2 separate regions of the Homo sapiens genome follow, and region 1 is linked to region 2. Evidence: fine-mapped expression QTL. A gene starts in region 2. The other region holds a variant in brackets. All regions are shown on one strand. Distances are from middle to middle. Region 1 holds the start of NOC3L (NOC3 like DNA replication regulator). Region 2 holds the start of TBC1D12 (TBC1 domain family member 12).

The links.
Region 1: its variant is fine-mapped to the expression of TBC1D12 in whole blood (INTERVAL, PIP 0.92).

What each region holds. Positions count from the first base shown.
Region 1 is chr10:94,362,680-94,371,011 of GRCh38, forward strand. It overlaps NOC3L (NOC3 like DNA replication regulator), which reads right to left and starts at 260. Exons shown (of 21, transcript NM_022451.11): 1 at 151-260. The coding sequence starts at 159. RefSeq lists an enhancer at 1-193 and a silencer at 334-463. The variant C/A (reference allele first, on the strand shown) is at 5,012.
Region 2 is chr10:94,399,009-94,407,340 of GRCh38, forward strand. TBC1D12 (TBC1 domain family member 12) reads left to right here and starts at 3,533. Exons shown (of 13, transcript NM_015188.2): 1 at 3,533-4,576. The coding sequence starts at 3,606. RefSeq lists enhancers at 3,281-3,440, 4,741-5,040 and silencers at 3,771-4,260, 4,331-4,660.

The DNA of each region.
Region 1 (8,332 bases), 36 kb before region 2:
ATGAGCTCGGTGTAAGGAATGGAAAGCCCCCAGTCTAAACCACCGCCCCCTAGACACGGGTGAAAACCTGCCTAAAAGCTAACTCAGGCAGTGACTCTATCACCCGAAGGGGCCCTAGGCCGCGGCGACCGGGCTTTTGAGGACACTTACCGCCTTCATCCTTAGGCCTTAAATGAATGCCGGCCAGACAAGTTCACCAGAAGCAGGGTTACTACAGAAATCCCGGGGAATGACACACGTGCCGAAGTCCCTACACTACCAGAGCCGGAAACGGCCTTCAGTCCCTCCCAATCCTCCGCCGCCGGAAGTGAGGGCGGGACTTCCGTAGACAGGTTCGGGCTCGCGCCCTCTCGCGGTGACTGTCTCGCGGCCCTGGACCGGTTGCCCCCCGGCGTGCGCGCGCGGACTGGCACGAGGGAAGCCCCGAGGGCGTCGGTGCCAAAGGCGGGAAGCCGGGCGGGAGGGGCGCATTTTGCAAGGTTATCTGAGTATGATTCTTTGACTCTCGCCCTATTTATTTCTTTTAAAACCTTGGGGAAATCGGGCTCCTCCTCTCAGAATGAGAGGACTTGGTTTTTTCGGTCACCTCATTGCATTTTGTGCCTCTCCTCACGTTGCTTATCTCATGCTGTTATAGATACTGATTTTCGTAGTCTTTTTCCTCCATACAGTCCTGAGGGCAGAAAGAAGCTTATTTTTTGTGTGTAATGCCTGCCCCTCGACGGACATTCTGGCCGTGTTTGTAGCATGGCGAATGATTTCTCATCAGCCTTGGTCACTTAAAAGTCTGTGATTCTTAGTGTTTTATTTTGCATTTTTTTTTTGCTTTAATTTTTAACCATTAGCTGATAAAGAACTGTATCCATGGCTGGGTGCGGTGGTTCACGCTTGTAATCCCAGCACTTAGGGAGGCAGAGGCGGGTGGATCACCTGAGTTCCAGGAGTTCGAGACCAGCCTGGCCAACATGGTGAAACCCTGTCTCTACTAAAAATACAAAAATCAGCCAGACATGGTGGCGTGCGCCTGTAATCCTAGCTACTCGGGAGGCTGAGGCAGGAGAATCGCTTGAACCCAGGAGGCAGAGGTTGCAGTGAGTCGAGATCACACCACTGCACTCCAGCCTGGGTGACAGAGCAAGACTGTCTAAAAAATAAAAATAAAAATAAAAAACTGTATCTGCATTTCAGTATCTTACAACTTTGGGTAAATTCTGTCTGCTTAGTAATTTCACCAAAGTCGTTTTTTGTTTTTGTTTTTTGAGACGGAGTCTTGCTCTGGCGCCCAGGCTGGAGTGCAGTGGCGCAATCTGGGCTCATTGCAAGCTCTGCCTTCTGGGTTCACGCCATTCTCCTGCCTCAGCCTCCCGAGTAACTGGAACTACAGGCGCCCGCCACCACGCCCAGCTAATTTTTTTTGTATTTTTAGTAGAGACGGGGTTTCACCGTGTTAGCCAGGATGGTCTCGATCTCCTGACCTCGTGATTCGCCCACCTTGGCCTCCCAAAGTGCTGGGATAACAGGCATGAGCCACCGCGCCCCGCCTAAAGTCGTTCATTTTTACAGGAAGTTTTATGGATTGCAAGAATAAGAGTATCAAAGTGCTTGTCTCTCAAAGACTTTTTTTTCTCAATAAATTTAAGCATTCCACTTCAAGTTTTTTGTGGGTTTTTTTGAGTCTATGATTTTTGAGCATGGCCCTGACACAGAGTCTGGCCTCGCAGTCCTGAGCAGGTGGGAAAACCCAGTAGTGCGGCTCAAAGGGTTCTGAGCCCCTTGAATAGTGTTGCTCTTAGAGAGACTGAGGGAAAAAAGTACCAATTTCCTGATCCCACCACAAAGACCAAGAGGTCCATCTGGCACTCTTCTTTCAACCTCCCTTCCAACTTCTTCCTTGCTCTGTCTCCTTCCACACAGTGTCAGAAACAGCAGAGCCTGTCCCGCTGGAGTATTACTTCATCAAACAAGTGGAAAACATCAGCCTGTGCTCTTCCCAAGTGCCTGAATTCCCTCCCAAGCATATCAACATATCTACAGTCACTCCCATCCTTTTAGCCTTCCTTCCAGTCTCTCCAAGGATGAGGCATCCCCATTCCAGTTCAAAACCAACTCCTCCCAGCTTCATCAGATTCTTGTATCATTAATTATCCCTTCTTTCCTGTGTTCTTTCCCTCTCTAATAGATCCTTCCCCTCAGCTTATAAACATATTCAAATCTCTTCCATTTTTAAGATTTGTTCTAATAAACTTATCTCCCTTTAATTGCTCTTTTATGTGCCTCTTTTCCTACTTGTCCCTACTTCCAGAAAAAAGTATTCTTTTAGCGTCTCCACTTTCTCTTCTCTATTGTCATAGCCCAATCCTGTGCTAGTATTTTCTTTTTTAATATAAAGATTGCCTTTTTTTATTTTTTTTCTCTGTTGCCCAGGCTGGAGTGCAGTGGCAGCTCTCAGCTCACTGCAGCCTCAACCTCCCAGGCTCAAGGGATCCTCCACCTCAGCTTCCTGGGTAGCTGAAACTACAGGCACGCACCACCATGCCCGGCTAATTTATATTATTTGCAGAGATTTGGTCTTGCTATACTGCCTAGGCTGGTCTCAAACTCCTGGGCTCAAGCAGTCCTCCCACCTCAACCTCCCAAAGTGCTGGGATTACAGGCATGAGCCACCATGCCCAGCATGTGCTAGCTTTTTTAAGAACTGTGTCATACTCTTGGCCCATTTTAAGTTTACAATCAACTAAAATCTCTGGATCATTTTAAAGCAATTGTTGCCAAGCTAAATCTCTCCCATCTTGAATTCGAGCAGCCTGTTGTTCGAAAATACTCAAAAATGGAAGTTTATATGATTCCTTTTAATTCCATTTAATCTTGCTGGTTTCTTAATTCTGTGTGTCCACCTTTGTGTCATCTCTTCTTCACTCAATCCACTGCCAAGCCCCATTTGGACTCCAGATCCTCTTAGATCCCTTAGAGCTTTCCTGGACACTTGAGCTGATAAGGGTCACTGGGCTTTCCCAAACTAGTATCACAGGGATTGTACCTGGAGATTCCTGTTAGCACTTTCAGGAAGTCTGTTAAGAACTTACGTGGCTTTGCCCATAACATTCCGCTGAAACTGATCTAATTAAGGTCACCAAGAACCTCCAAAGTGTTGTGAGTTTTTTCTAATTGTGTACGGAATTACATTACTTCTTTCTCATTTAACCTCACTAGATCTCTCTGCTGCCTTTGATGCTACGCGTATCTCCCTTCACACATTAGAATGTTGATTCCCTTGGCTTTCCTAATAGCCTGTTCCCCAGGTTCTCCTCCTACCTCCATTTCTTCCTCCTTAGGCTTCTTCAATGTAGGTGACTCTCAGGGTTCTACTCTTGGCCCACTTGTCTACCACTCTTCTTGCTCTACTTGCTTTTCCAGCGTGATTTCATCCATCTACCTATTACAAAGAGATTTTGTCCAGCCTATACTTCTTCCCCAAGCTTCATTCTTATAGCCATCTGCCTCCTGGACAGCTCTACCTCCTAACCATGGGACTTCACATTACCATGTTCAAAAGAACTATTTTTTTTCACTTGTACCTCTTGTAACATTCCCTATTTCTTTCTTTTACCCACAGCTAGAATCCCAAATACTCCAGAGATCTTTGTCAACAAGCAAGGGCTTTCTTGGCCATTTACCGTATTATAATTAATCCATTTTCTATAAACAAACAGTTTTGAAAACTGTCACTAAGTGGACATGGAATAATAAACAAGGCTTCTTTTTTTCCAGTACCACAAGATAATTTACATAAGTTATAATAAGGGACTATATGAATGTTTGTCACTTTGTAGTAAGTGTTTGGCGATAGAAAAAGCCCACACTTCAGTATCACAAATTAGAAAATAAACATCGTAATTGGATGTTATCACTGTCAATCATCTTAGACATAAAAGAGGCAGGCAGGTTGCCCTACAGCTCACCCAAAGGGGACCTGTGGAAATTAGAAAAAGCTTCCATGTCCTTAAGACACTTCACTGTCATAGATCAAAAAAAAAAAGTTTGCTATCTTTACAAATAAACTGTGAATGACGCCCCTGGAATTGTACAATATACAGTCCTCCCTTATGTCGAAGTGCTTGGCTCTGCCTAGGCCTCTTTCTGTTTCCCTTCCTAAAATTCAGGGGAAACAAAAACAAAACTAAACTAAAGTAAAATAAAATCCAGGGGAGGGAAGGAGTCTAGAATCTCTGTTCAGACCTTTGAGATAGTGCTACAGCCAAGGGGAAAAAAAAACAACTCACTATCAGAGAGCTAAAAAAACATAACTGTAATATTTAAGTAATATTTAGATATTACTGTCCAGGCATTGTGGCTCCTGCCTGTAATCCCAGCACTTTGGGAGGCTGAGGCAGGAGGATTATTTGAGGCCACGTGTTCAAGGCTACAGTGAGCTATGAGGGTGCCACTGCACTCCAGCCTGGGCGACAGAGTGAGGCTATCGCAAAAAAAAAAAAAAAGAAAGGATTTGAAAATACGTATATCATGGTCTCTACCTTTGAAAATGTTAAAATATTGTTGAGAAATTGTGTGTGTGTGTGTGTGTGTGTTTGTGTGTAGTTGAGAATGATAATTATGAATTACCAAATAGAGAATAATAGAAAAGATCACATAGGTGCTAAAAAATAAAGACAAGCTGCTTTAGAGGAAGTCATAGAGCAATGTATACCTAAATGAGAACAGGAGAAAGGACAAAGTTTAAATAGATGGTATAATTTGTTCTAAGCAAGGTCACTCAGGTAGTACAAATAATTTATATTGTGGTGCATCAGAAAATTAGGTTAAGATAGCTAATAATTATAATTAATTATTAAATTAAAAGTATTAACCAAAAACCAAAATAATAGCAAACATTAGAATAATGATGTAGCAGATTTTTTGTCCTGCTGAACCCACAGCTTGAATCACCCCAAAAGCAGTGGTAGGCCAGGAATTAGTGGCTTCAGTGAGTTATGATCTCACCACTGCACTCCAG[C/A]CTGGGCAACAGAGCAAGACTCCATCTCAAAAACAAACAAAAGCAGCGACAGGGAAGTTCCCACAACGGTGTGTCCCAAACTGTCTTGAGAAAAGGCCCCCAGTTGGGATGCCATAGAAAGAAGCATTTTTTTTTTTTTTTTTTTTTGAGACAGAGTTCACTCTTGTGGCCCAGGCTGGAGCGCAATGGCACGATCTCAGCTCACCTCAACCTCCGCCTCCCGGGTTCAAGTGCTTCTCCTGCCTCAGCCTCCTGAGTAGCTGGGATTACAGGCATGTGCCAACATGCCCGGCTAATTTTGTATTTTTAGTAGAGACAAGGTTTCTCCATGTTGGTCAGGCTGGTCTCGAACTCCCAACCTCAGGTGATCCGCCCGCCTCGGCCTCCCAAAGTGCTGGGATTACAGGCGTAAGCCACTGTGCCTGGCCGAAAGAAGCATTAAATGCCGGGGTGATCAACCCAAAACAATTGTTAGGAGAACTTACCTACAGAGTGCTGTGGCAATCCTCATGATGGACAGTGAGAGAAAAGGGGTGTGGACCTAGGTATGTCCACAGTGAGGGGGTCAGGGTACGGAGTTTATATGAGGGTTTAAGGTATGTGACTCAGGGCCTGAGCCAGTACTTTCAGTGTTTTGGGCAACAACTTAGATACTTTTACCAGTGCCTGGGACTGTTCAAAGCCCCAGTTTGTGTTGAAGCCTGCTGGGATGAACCTGCAGATGGCTAGGTCACAGAGCAGTCAAGGCACTCTAATTTTTTATTCAGGACACAGAAAGAAAGCCGCAAGGGGCTGTGCGGGAGGTCTCCTGGGGGCCCTACACAAATGTTGTTGGTGTCTCGTCTACATATCCTCAGTACTTCGTGTTCCATACATGCTGAAAAAGTCCTCTGAGCACTTGCAAATTTTCACTTAAGGACTTTTTCTGGACCCCTGTAGGGCAGGTCTGAAGTGCCACAGATTTTTCCACTGGAAGCATCCTCAATCAACAACAAATGGTAATTGAAGGATAACTATAGCAATTGTGGTAGGCTGAAACATGACTTCCAAATATATGAAGGCTAAGTCCCTGGAAACATGAATATTAACTTATACAGGCAAAGTTGTGATTAAGTTAAAGATTTTGAGATGAAATGATTATGCAAGTGGGCAATCACATGAATCCATTTAAGAGACAGGAGATTTCACACAGACAGACAAGAAGGTAATGTGACTACAATAGGCAGAGATTGGAGTGATGTAGACAAGTCAAGGAATTCTAGCAGCCACCAGAAAGGGGAAGAGATAAAGAACAAACTCTCCCCTAGAGCTCAGTCCAGTGATATTAAGTTCAGACTTGCAGCCTCTAGAACTGTGAGAGAATAAATTTCTGTGTTTTAAGCCACCAAATTTGTGATGATTTGTTACAGCAGCCATAGAAAGCTAATATACCAATAAAATATAACAAAAACATACCAATGTCCTTAATCCTCAGAGGTAGAACACCTCTAAGGCAGCGCTCCCCAGCCTTTTTGGCATCAGGGACGGGTTTTGAGGAAGATAATTTTTCCACAGATCAGGGTGGGGGATGGTTTCAGGAAGAAACTGTTCCACTTCAGATCATCAGGCATTAGTTAGATTCTCATAAGGAGCGTCCCACCTAGATCCCTCAAATGTGCAGTTCACAGTTGGGTTCAAGCTCCTATGAGAATCTAATGCCTCCACCGATCTGACAGGAGGCGGAGCTCAGGCAGTAATGTCACTCACCTGCCGCTCACCTCCTGCTGTACAGCCCAGTTCCTAACAGGCCGCGGACTGGTACAGGTCTGTGGTCCCAGGGTTGGGGACCCCTGCTCTAAGACATCTTCCACTTTGTCTCCCAAAGATTGAGTTCCACCTGCAGAGATATCCTACTCATCAGCACACACTATTAGTGTCCTTTGCTTCCCTGCCTCACAACCCCACCCTGCTAGAAATGGTTCCTGGACTCACCTTCAAAATAAACCACTTGCACTCAAGTCCTTATGTATCTGTTTCCTTGGGCTGCCGTAAAAAAGAACCAAAAATTGGGTGGGTTAAAACAACCAAAATGTATTATCTCACAGCTCTGGAGGCAAGGTGTCTAAAATCAAGATGTTGGCATTGTTTGTTTATGTTTAGGGCTCTGAGGAAGAATCTGTTCCATGCCTCTGTCCTGGATTCTGGTGACAGCTGGCAATCCTTGGCAATCTTTGGCTTGTAGATGCATCAATCCAATCTCTGCCCCCATCTTTACATATTATTCTCCATGTGTCCCTCTGTCTTCACATGTCTGTCTTCCCCTCTTATAAGGATACTAGTCATATTGGATTAAGGGCCCACCCTAATGACCTCATGTTAACTTTATTACATCTGCAAAGACCTTTCCAAATAAGATGATGTTCATAGTTACCAAGGATTAGGATTTCAACATATCTTTTTTTTTTTGGAGGGGGGACACGATTCAACTCAAGATCAAATTCAGAGGACCCCAGCGTACCACTTATTTAGGTAATTTTTATGTTTCCCTAGATATGAATTATTTCATTGAATCCTCAATAATCTTATGATATAAATATTAGCTGTGTTTAATTTGTTTTTATTTAATTAATGAATTACAGGATTAGATATTACAGTGTGGCCAAGTTTGTGTTTACACCAGATGGGAAACATAACAAGATGCCAGTCCTGCTAGTGGGAATAGTTTTCCAACAAAAGGGATCAAATGCCTTAAGCTGTTTTCCTAATCTGCAATATTATGGTCAGGGAAAAATTTTAGAGGGATTTTCCTAGGGTTGTGATACATGTTCTTTTTTATTTAAGATGTTTGTTGATAAATTAAGCTAAGAAATGACATTTCCTGTTTCTTTACTTACATTGATTGTTCAAAGCCATTCTTTATTTATTCATTGTCTTTCAAAATCCCTAGGGAAGGAAAAGTGGATGCCATGCACAAAGTCATGCACAGTTTCTGATAGTCCTTTGAGCAGCAATAGTTTTTCACCCTCCACTCTGTACCAGACTCTGCTAGGAGCTCGCTGTGAAAGAACGTTCTGTAAAACAAGGATGTATTGTCTCTAGGTCTCTATTCCAAAGCTGCTGGGAAGTATAGCTGAATGGGAAGGAAACTATCAAATAAACTAACATCTAAGGTATCATGTATATCATCCTCACACCTCCCACAATGCCAGTCCTACTTATTTTATTTTTTAAATTTACTATTATTTATTATTTTTATTTTGAGACAAGCTCTTACTCTGTTGCCCAGGCTGGAGTGCGGCAGCTCAATCATGATTCACTGCAGCCTTGACCTCCTGGGCTCAA
Region 2 (8,332 bases):
GGGTTGTTTCCACCTTTTGGTTATTATTGGTAATGCTGCTGTGAACATTCATGTAAAACATTTTTTTTTTTTTTGAGACGCAGTCTTGCTCTGTCGCCCAGGCTGGCGTGCAGTGGTGTGATCTCAGCTCACTGCAAGCTCCACCTCCCAGGTTCAAGCGATTCTCCCTGCCTCAGCCTCCCAAGTAGCTGGGATTAAAGGCACGGGCACCACTGAGCCAGGCTATTTTTTTTTTTTCCTCGAGACGGAGTCTTGCTCTGTCACCCAGGCTGGAGTGCAGTAGTGCGATCTCGGCTCACTGCAAGCTCTGCCTCCCCAGTTCACGCCATTCTCCTGCCTCAGCCTCCTGAGTAGCTGGGACTACAGGTGCCCGCCACGACACCCGGCTAATTTTTTGTATTTTTAGTAGAGATGGGGTTTCACCGTGTTAGCCAGGATGGTCTCGATCTCCTGACCTCGTGATCCACCCTCCTCGGCCTCCCAAAGTGCTGGGATTACAGGCGTGAGACACTACGCCCGGCCTTTGTATTTTTTTAGTAGAGATCGGGTTTCACCATGTTGGCCACGATGGTGTTGAACTCCTGATCTCAGGTGATCCACCTGCCTCGGCCTTCCAAAGTGCTGGGATTACAGGCATGAGCCACTGTGCCCAACCCACGTAAAACATTTTTGTTTGAACACCTGTTTTCAATTCTTTTGGGTATACACCTAGGAGTAAAATTGCTGGCTTATAAGTAATTCCATGTTTAACTTATTGAGGAACTACCAAACTGTTTTTCATGGAAGCTGCACCATTTTACATTTCTACCAGAAATGTATGAAGGTTCTAGTTTTTCCACATTCTTTTCAACATTTGTTTTCTATTTTTTTGATTATAGACATCCTGGTGAGTGTGAAGTGCTATCTCATTGTAGTTTTGATTTGCATTTCCTTAATGACTAATGATGTTGAGCATCACTTCATATGCTTATTAATATTCCATTAACATATGTTTCTTAGGAGAAATGTATATTCAAGTCCCTTGCCCATTTTTTTAGTTGGGTTGTTTTTCAGTTGTTGATTTATACAAGTTCTTTATTTATTCTGGATACTGCACTCTTACCAGATATACAATTTGCAAATATTTTCTCTCTTTTTATATTTTTTCCACTCGTGTCCTGAAAGTCATTTTTTCCTTCTGAAATACCTTGATAATAAATGCATTGCTGACTATGCCTTTGCCACTTAGTCCTTTCCTAGGGCCTTCAATAACGCTTATTTTCGAAGACACTTGATGTTTTTATTTTGTTGAGACAGAGTCTCCCTCTGTCGCCCAGGCTGGAGTGCAGTGGTGCGATCCTGGCTCACTGCAAACTTCGCCTCCTGGGTTCAAGCGATTCTCCTGCCTCAGCCTCCTGAGTAGCTGGGATTACAGGCGCCCACCACCACGCCCGGCTAATTTTATTTTATTTTATGCTTTTATTTTTAGTAGAGATGGGATTTCACTATATTGGCCAGGCTGGTCTTGAACTCCTGACCTCAAGTGATCTGCCTGCCTCTGGCTCCCAAAGTGCTGGGATTACAGATGTGAGCCACCACGCCTGGCCTCTTGATGTTTTTTTAAATTGAGTGTTAGGTACATGCATGCCCATTTTATTGACATTTTATTATATAAAGGTTATATTCCCTCTTATATCTGTATGTATAGGTATTTTTATATGAAATAAATTTTAAATGCTTGACAATAATGTCTCCTCTACGACTTCTATTTTCTGTTCTTGCATTCACTAACATACTTTTAGAATGAATGAGTGGTCTATATTCTATATACTTTTATAGAATGAGTGGTCTATATTTTCTGCTTCGTTTTATCCACAACTGATGCCTCTTCAATTTCTTGCAATACAACTTTTTTGTCCTGAAATAATGAAACATTTGGGTCTGTGCCCGACCCTTATCATTATTCTTTCTTCCTAGGTAATGTTACTCATGATTCATCCACCTACTTGCATTATACAGATGACGCCTAATCTGTGTCTCTGAACCTAAACCCTAACCCAAGTTTTATTATTTATTTATTTGAAACAGTTTCCCTCTTGTTGCCCAGGCTGGAGTGCAGTGGTACGATCTGGGCTCATTGCAACTTCAGCCTCTCGGGTTCAAGCGATTCTCCTGCCTCAGCCTCCCAAGTAGCTGGGATTACAGGTGCCCACCACCATGCCCAGCTAATTTTTCGTATTTTTAGTAGGGACTGGGTTTCACCATGTTGGCCAGGCTGGTCTCGAACTCCTGACCTCAGGTGATCCACCTGCCTCGGCCTCCCAACGTGTTGGGATTATAGGCGTGAGCCACTGCGCCCAGCCAACTCAAGTTTTAGAACTCTATATGCTGGATATTTTCAGTCGTTTACTTTACCAGATGTATTTCCCCTATTAATCGTTTTTTTCCTATCCACTTTTCTATTTCTTCAAACCATATCAGTTTCAGTCTCATATCTTTGTAGTAATCATTGGTTACTCTCTCTTCTGTCACTTCTGATCAGTTATCAAGTCTTTCGTCTTTTACTTTAAATATACTTCATTTCCACTCAATGGTCAATCATCCCATTTTAATCCACTATCGCAGAGTGCTGGAATTATTTCAATAGCTCCTCTCTGCCTGACCACTTCCTCTCCCTCCTTAGGTGATAATCTTTTTTTCTTGTTTGAGACGGAGTCTCGCTCTGTCGCCCAGGCTGGAGTGCAGTGGCGCGATCTCGGTTCACTGCAAGCTCCGCCTCCCGGGTTCACGCCATTCTCCTGCCTCAGCCTCCCGAGTAGCTGGGACTACAAGCGCCCGCCACCATGCCCAGCTAATTTTTTTGTATTTTTAGTAGAGACAGGGTTTCACCGTGTTAGCCAGGATGGTCTCCATCTCCTGACCTTGTGATCCACCCGCCTCGGCCTCCCAAAGTGCTGGGATTACAGGCGTGAGCCACCGCGCCCGGCCGGTGATAATCTTTTAAACAGAGGACTGTGATGAAACATGGTGCTAGGTGAGCAAGATAACTTAGGATATCTTTCTTTTGTGTTAGATGAAGTGAAGAAGGGAGGGTGTTGACCCTCCTGGATGAAGTGATGAAGCCCTGAACTGTGGCAATGATGCCGGAGAAGGATGTAAAAATCGTAAAGTCGACTGGTGACCAATTAGAGCTGGAAGGACTTACCCACGCTAACACCTCCCAAATATGGGAGTATTTTACTACCATAAATGAAATACATCAAGTGAATTTTTGCTAAGCGAGCAATACCCGCGCTTCGGTAAGAACTGTCACGCTTAGAGCGGGCCAACCAGCTTCCACCATCCAGATGGCGGATCCTAGATTGGCAGCCTGCGTCTCTCTAGCTACCGTCTCTATGGTTCGGGGAATCTCCAGGTCGGGGCTTGACCGGTCCGACTTTTGCGCGTGCGCGAGTCCTGGCGCGTGCCCGCCCTCAAGCAACTGTCCGACCCAGCGGGTGGGAGGGGTGGGTCTGGGAACGTTGCGGCGGCTGTCGCCGCGGCCCCAGCACCCAGAGCTGTTCTCTGGCCAAGCCTGCGCCTGTAGTCCTTCTTTGCCTCCTGGGGCGGCCGCCACCCACCCCCAGATGGTGGGTCCGGAGGATGCCGGAGCCTGCTCGGGAAGAAACCCCAAGTTGCTCCCGGTGCCTGCGCCGGACCCCGTGGGCCAGGACAGGAAGGTAATCCGGGCCACGGGCGGCTTTGGCGGAGGCGTCGGCGCTGTGGAGCCGCCGGAGGAGGCTGACGAGGAGGAGGAGGCTGACGAGGAGGAGGAGACGCCGCCTCGGCAGCTCCTTCAGCGTTACCTCGCGGCGGCCGGGGAGCAGCTGGAGCCGGGGCTCTGCTACTGTCCGCTCCCCGCTGGCCAGGCCGGCGCCCCGCCGCCCTCGGCAGCCCCACGATCGGACGCCTGCCTGCTGGGCTCGGGCTCCAAACACCGCGGCGCGGAGGTGGCTGATGGCCGCGCGCCGCGGCACGAAGGCATGACCAACGGCGACTCGGGTTTTCTGCCGGGCCGGGACTGTCGCGATCTGGAAGAGGCTCGCGGGCTGGCGCGCGCCGGCGGCCGGGAGTCGCGCCGCCGCCGCCCCTACGGCCGCCTTCGCCTGGAGGGGCCTGGCGACGAGGACGCGGACGGCGCGGGAAGCCCGTCCGATTGGGCCTCTCCGCTTGAGGACCCGCTGCGGAGCTGCTGCCTGGTGGCCGCGGACGCCCAGGAGCCCGAGGGCGCGGGCAGCGACTCGGGGGACAGCCCCGCCAGCAGCTGCAGCAGTAGCGAGGACTCAGAGCAGCGGGGAGTCGGCGCCGGGGGTCCCGAGGAGGGCGCGCCCCCTGCCACCTCGGCCGAGAGGACTAATGGGGGTGCGGAGCCGCGCCTGGGCTTTTCTGACATTCACTTCAACTCTCGCAACACGTTCCAGGTGAGCCGCGGTCAGAGCGCCCGCGATCACCTGCCCCCGGCGGGGCCGCCGGTGCCCTTGCCCGCCGCGGAGCAGGGTCCTGCGGGGGCTTCGGCCCGGGCTCGACGGAGTGGCGGCTTCGCGGACTTCTTCACCAGGTACAGCGCAGGCTGCATGGGACTCGGGGCGGGTCCGGGGCCGGGGCCGGAGCCGGGGTCTTGGTGGGAGTCGGAGCCGGAGCCGGAGCCGGAGCGGAGAGCTTGGTCGGCCGCTTCCGTGCCAGCCCCACACGCGTCAGGACTTAGCTTTGATTTGTCACTGGAGGAAGAGGAACTGGGTCGGCTTTGTGTTTCTATAGGAGAAGTTGTGAGCTCTGTGGACAGCGAGTCTTTCTGTTGCCTTGTCCGCGGGAGGCTGTACCTGCCATTCATACCTGGCTTCTGAGCAGTCAGGTTGGGCCAGCTGTCTAGTGCCACATATGCAGTTGCCTTTTCTGGAAAAGCAGATAACCATCTCCGTCTCCAATTTTTAAAAATTTTACTACAAACATTTAGGTTGTTGGGGGGGTGGTGAGGGGAGGCGGTATGTGTGTACGGGTGTGGTTGTGAAAGAGAGAAGGAAGTCATTTTGTAGAGCTGTTTATTTGCTGTGCTTGCATAGCGTCTAAATCCATTCAAGTGGTTTGGGAATTCTTGAAATTAGAAGTGGTTGTGCTTCATAGTGTTTAATCGTTTGTTTCAGTGGTCTTTATTAAAATGCAGTTTGGTGTTTAGAATTTTATCCCAACTTTTTAAGCCAAAGTAGGGCTTTTACTAAGGAAAGCCTTTTTTCTAATCTCCCAGATAAGCCTCTCCTTTTTTTCCCCAATAACTTTAGTTTTTTTAAAAAATGGTATTGTATTTGTGATTTGACAGGATATTCTTGAAATTAAATTATGGGCCGGGCGCGGTGGCTCACGCCTGTAATTCCAGCACTTTGGGAGGCTGAGGCGGGCGGACTATTTGAGGTCAGGGGTTCGAGACCAGCCTGGCCAATGTGGTGAAACCCGGTTTCTACTAAAAATACAAAAATTAGCCAGGCGTGGTGGCAGGTGCTTGTAATCCCAGCTACTCGGGATGCTGAGGCAGGAGAATCACTTGAACCTGGGAGGTAGAGGTTGCAGTGAACCTAGATCGTGCCATTGCACTCCAGCCTGGGGGACAAGAGCGAAACTCCGTCTTTCAAAAAAAAAAAAAAAGAAAAGAAAGAAATTAAATTATGGTGCTGGACTTCGCAGATTTCAGGATGGAGGTTTGTTGATTTAATAGGGATAAATAAGAGTAGTCAGAAAATACTTAATACACCTTACTGTAAGAGCAGTCCTGTAATCCCAGCACTTTGGGAGGCCGAGGTGGGTGGATCACCTGAGGTCAGAGTTCGAGACCAGCCTGGCCAACATGGTGAAACCCCGTCTCTACTAAAATATACAAAAATTAGCCGGGCATGTTGGCAGGCGACTTAATCCCAGCTACTTGGGAGGCAGAGGCAAGAGAATCGTTTGAACCCAGAAGGCGGAGGTTGCTGTGAGCTGAGATCGAGCCATTGCACTGAAACCTGGGGAATAAGAGCTAGACTTCTCTCAAAAAAAAAAAAAAAAAGGCAGTTTTCCTTGAGTTAGATTTTGACACGCCTTTTTCTTCTTCTTCTTCTTCTTTTTTCTTAAGTCCCCAGGCAAATAGGAAAATATTCCCAACTTGTAAAACTTTCCTTTACAGAGTTCTCCCTACTTTGTTTTTCTACCTTTTCGGGGATCTTGACTATAACCAGAAGTGAAAGAAGCAAATTCTTAGCTCAAGTTTTAGCAGGTTATACAATTAGCGTACATATTGTAGACATAAAGGCACAATTTTCTGATTATAATTGATATTTCTTATTCCTCTTTCTAGTTTATCCTTATTTTTTTGCTTGTATAAATTTACAAATATAAAGTTTCTTAAATCAAAAGTGGAAAATCCTAATTTTTTGTTACTCAGGACAATATATGTAGTAATGACATCTGTATTTGTAATATAGTTGCAAAAATATATTTAAAGCTTGTACTGGCAGTATTCTAAAAGATCTCAAGGTGAGTTAGGTTTATAAATTTGTGACACTGTGTGGCCTTTGGGTGTTTGTTGGTCATATCTATCTTGGTCATGTTTTGAGGTCAGATGTCAGGCAATTTTAGATCTGGGAGGGGCTTTGGAGATAACAAATTCAACTAGTATACTCTTGAGTTCTTGCTCTCTGCCATGCATTGTGAATAGAGATGATTTAGAAAACTGTCCCTTACCTGCAGGTGGGGTGCAGGCTAATGGGGATTAAGTTTGAAGACAGATGCATATATATACATTGCAATTTCTGAACATTTTTTTTTTTTTTTGAGATGGAGTTTCCCTCTTTTGCCCAGGCTGGAGTGAAGTGGTGCCATCTTGGCTCACTGCAACCTCTGCCCCCCTGGGTTCAAGTGATTCTCCTGCCTCAGCCTCCCAAGTAGCTGGGATTACAGGCACCCGCCACCACGCCTGGCTAATTTTTGTATTTTTGGTAGAGACCAGGTTTCACCATGTTGGCCAGGCTGGTCTTGAACTCCTGACCTCAGGTGATCCACCCGCCTCAGCCTCTCAAAGTGCTGGGATTACAGGTGTGAACCACTGCCCCAGCCAACAATGTTATTTATAGGAGGCTTTCATATTATTAACAGTAGGCAGGAATTTTATTTTTTCTTTCATTTCCCATGTGTTTTAAGTAGGCAGGAATTTTGATTTAATTTGTAAATTTTTTTTACTTATAGACTAATAGAACTTAATATAGCTAGATGACATTCATATGGCCACATTATTCATATGTGTCAGAGCACTGGATTTGAAGTCAGAAAACAGGTGCCCTAAAGTTAATTTCTCTAAGCCTCATTTTTCCTGATAGAGGTCTGAATGTCAAGACTCTAGGAGTCAGTGCTTCCTTTATATGACATTCTTGGGAAAGAAAGGGCAGAGTCAGAGAGGCACAGTTTTTCTTAAATGAATTCTGAACACCTTAAAGGCAGGAACTGTGACATTCATCTCTGAATCTATAATACCTAGCCACTGGTATGAAGAACACCATTCAGATTGGGTTGAATAGGTAGCTTTCATGGATTCCCTTTTACTGTGCTCTAGCTAGGTAGTGTAATTTTGAGCAGAATCTCCATCCTCAGTGAAAATAATCAGAAATTACCCCTGTCTCACAACACAACCCAAGAGATCCAACCCTACCCCTAAATGCATAGTTGCTATTCTCAACTCTGAAGCTCCAGGTGAGGGCTCTCTTTGGAAGTGGCTTGTTTGGGATGGAATCTTGTTCTTGGGTGCAACCCTTACTCCCACTTCATTTTTTTAGATGAGGAATCTCATTGTCTAAAGAAGGTAATTTAGTTAGCTAGTGGCATGCTGGGATTTGAAACCAGGATTCCTGATTTCCCAATCCATGTTTATGTTCAGTCTACAACCTTTGTTCACTTTATGGCTCTTTTCTCTCCCACCTATTTATCCTCCATGCTTTCCTTCTTCTTCCCTTCCCACTTCGTTCTTCTCTTTCCCTTAATTAGGCAAAAATCTATACGAGAAACCTTAAAAAAAAAACAGTTTTATGTTTACTTAAGTAAAGAGGGGGGAGCATTTTACACAATGTATCTATTACTACATAGTATTATGTTAAGACACATCATTTTGGTAGATATATAGGAAAAACAGGAATTCATTTAGAATATGACTGCTTTCATTTGGAGGGCCTTAGTGGTCATCTCCCACTTTCCTTCCCTTCCACATGAGGTGAGTTCTATTTCAGTCCCTACTGGGGGCTTGCTTCAGCTTCACATGGACACCTTTCTGTGTTTATGGTGACTTGGCTGTCAGAGC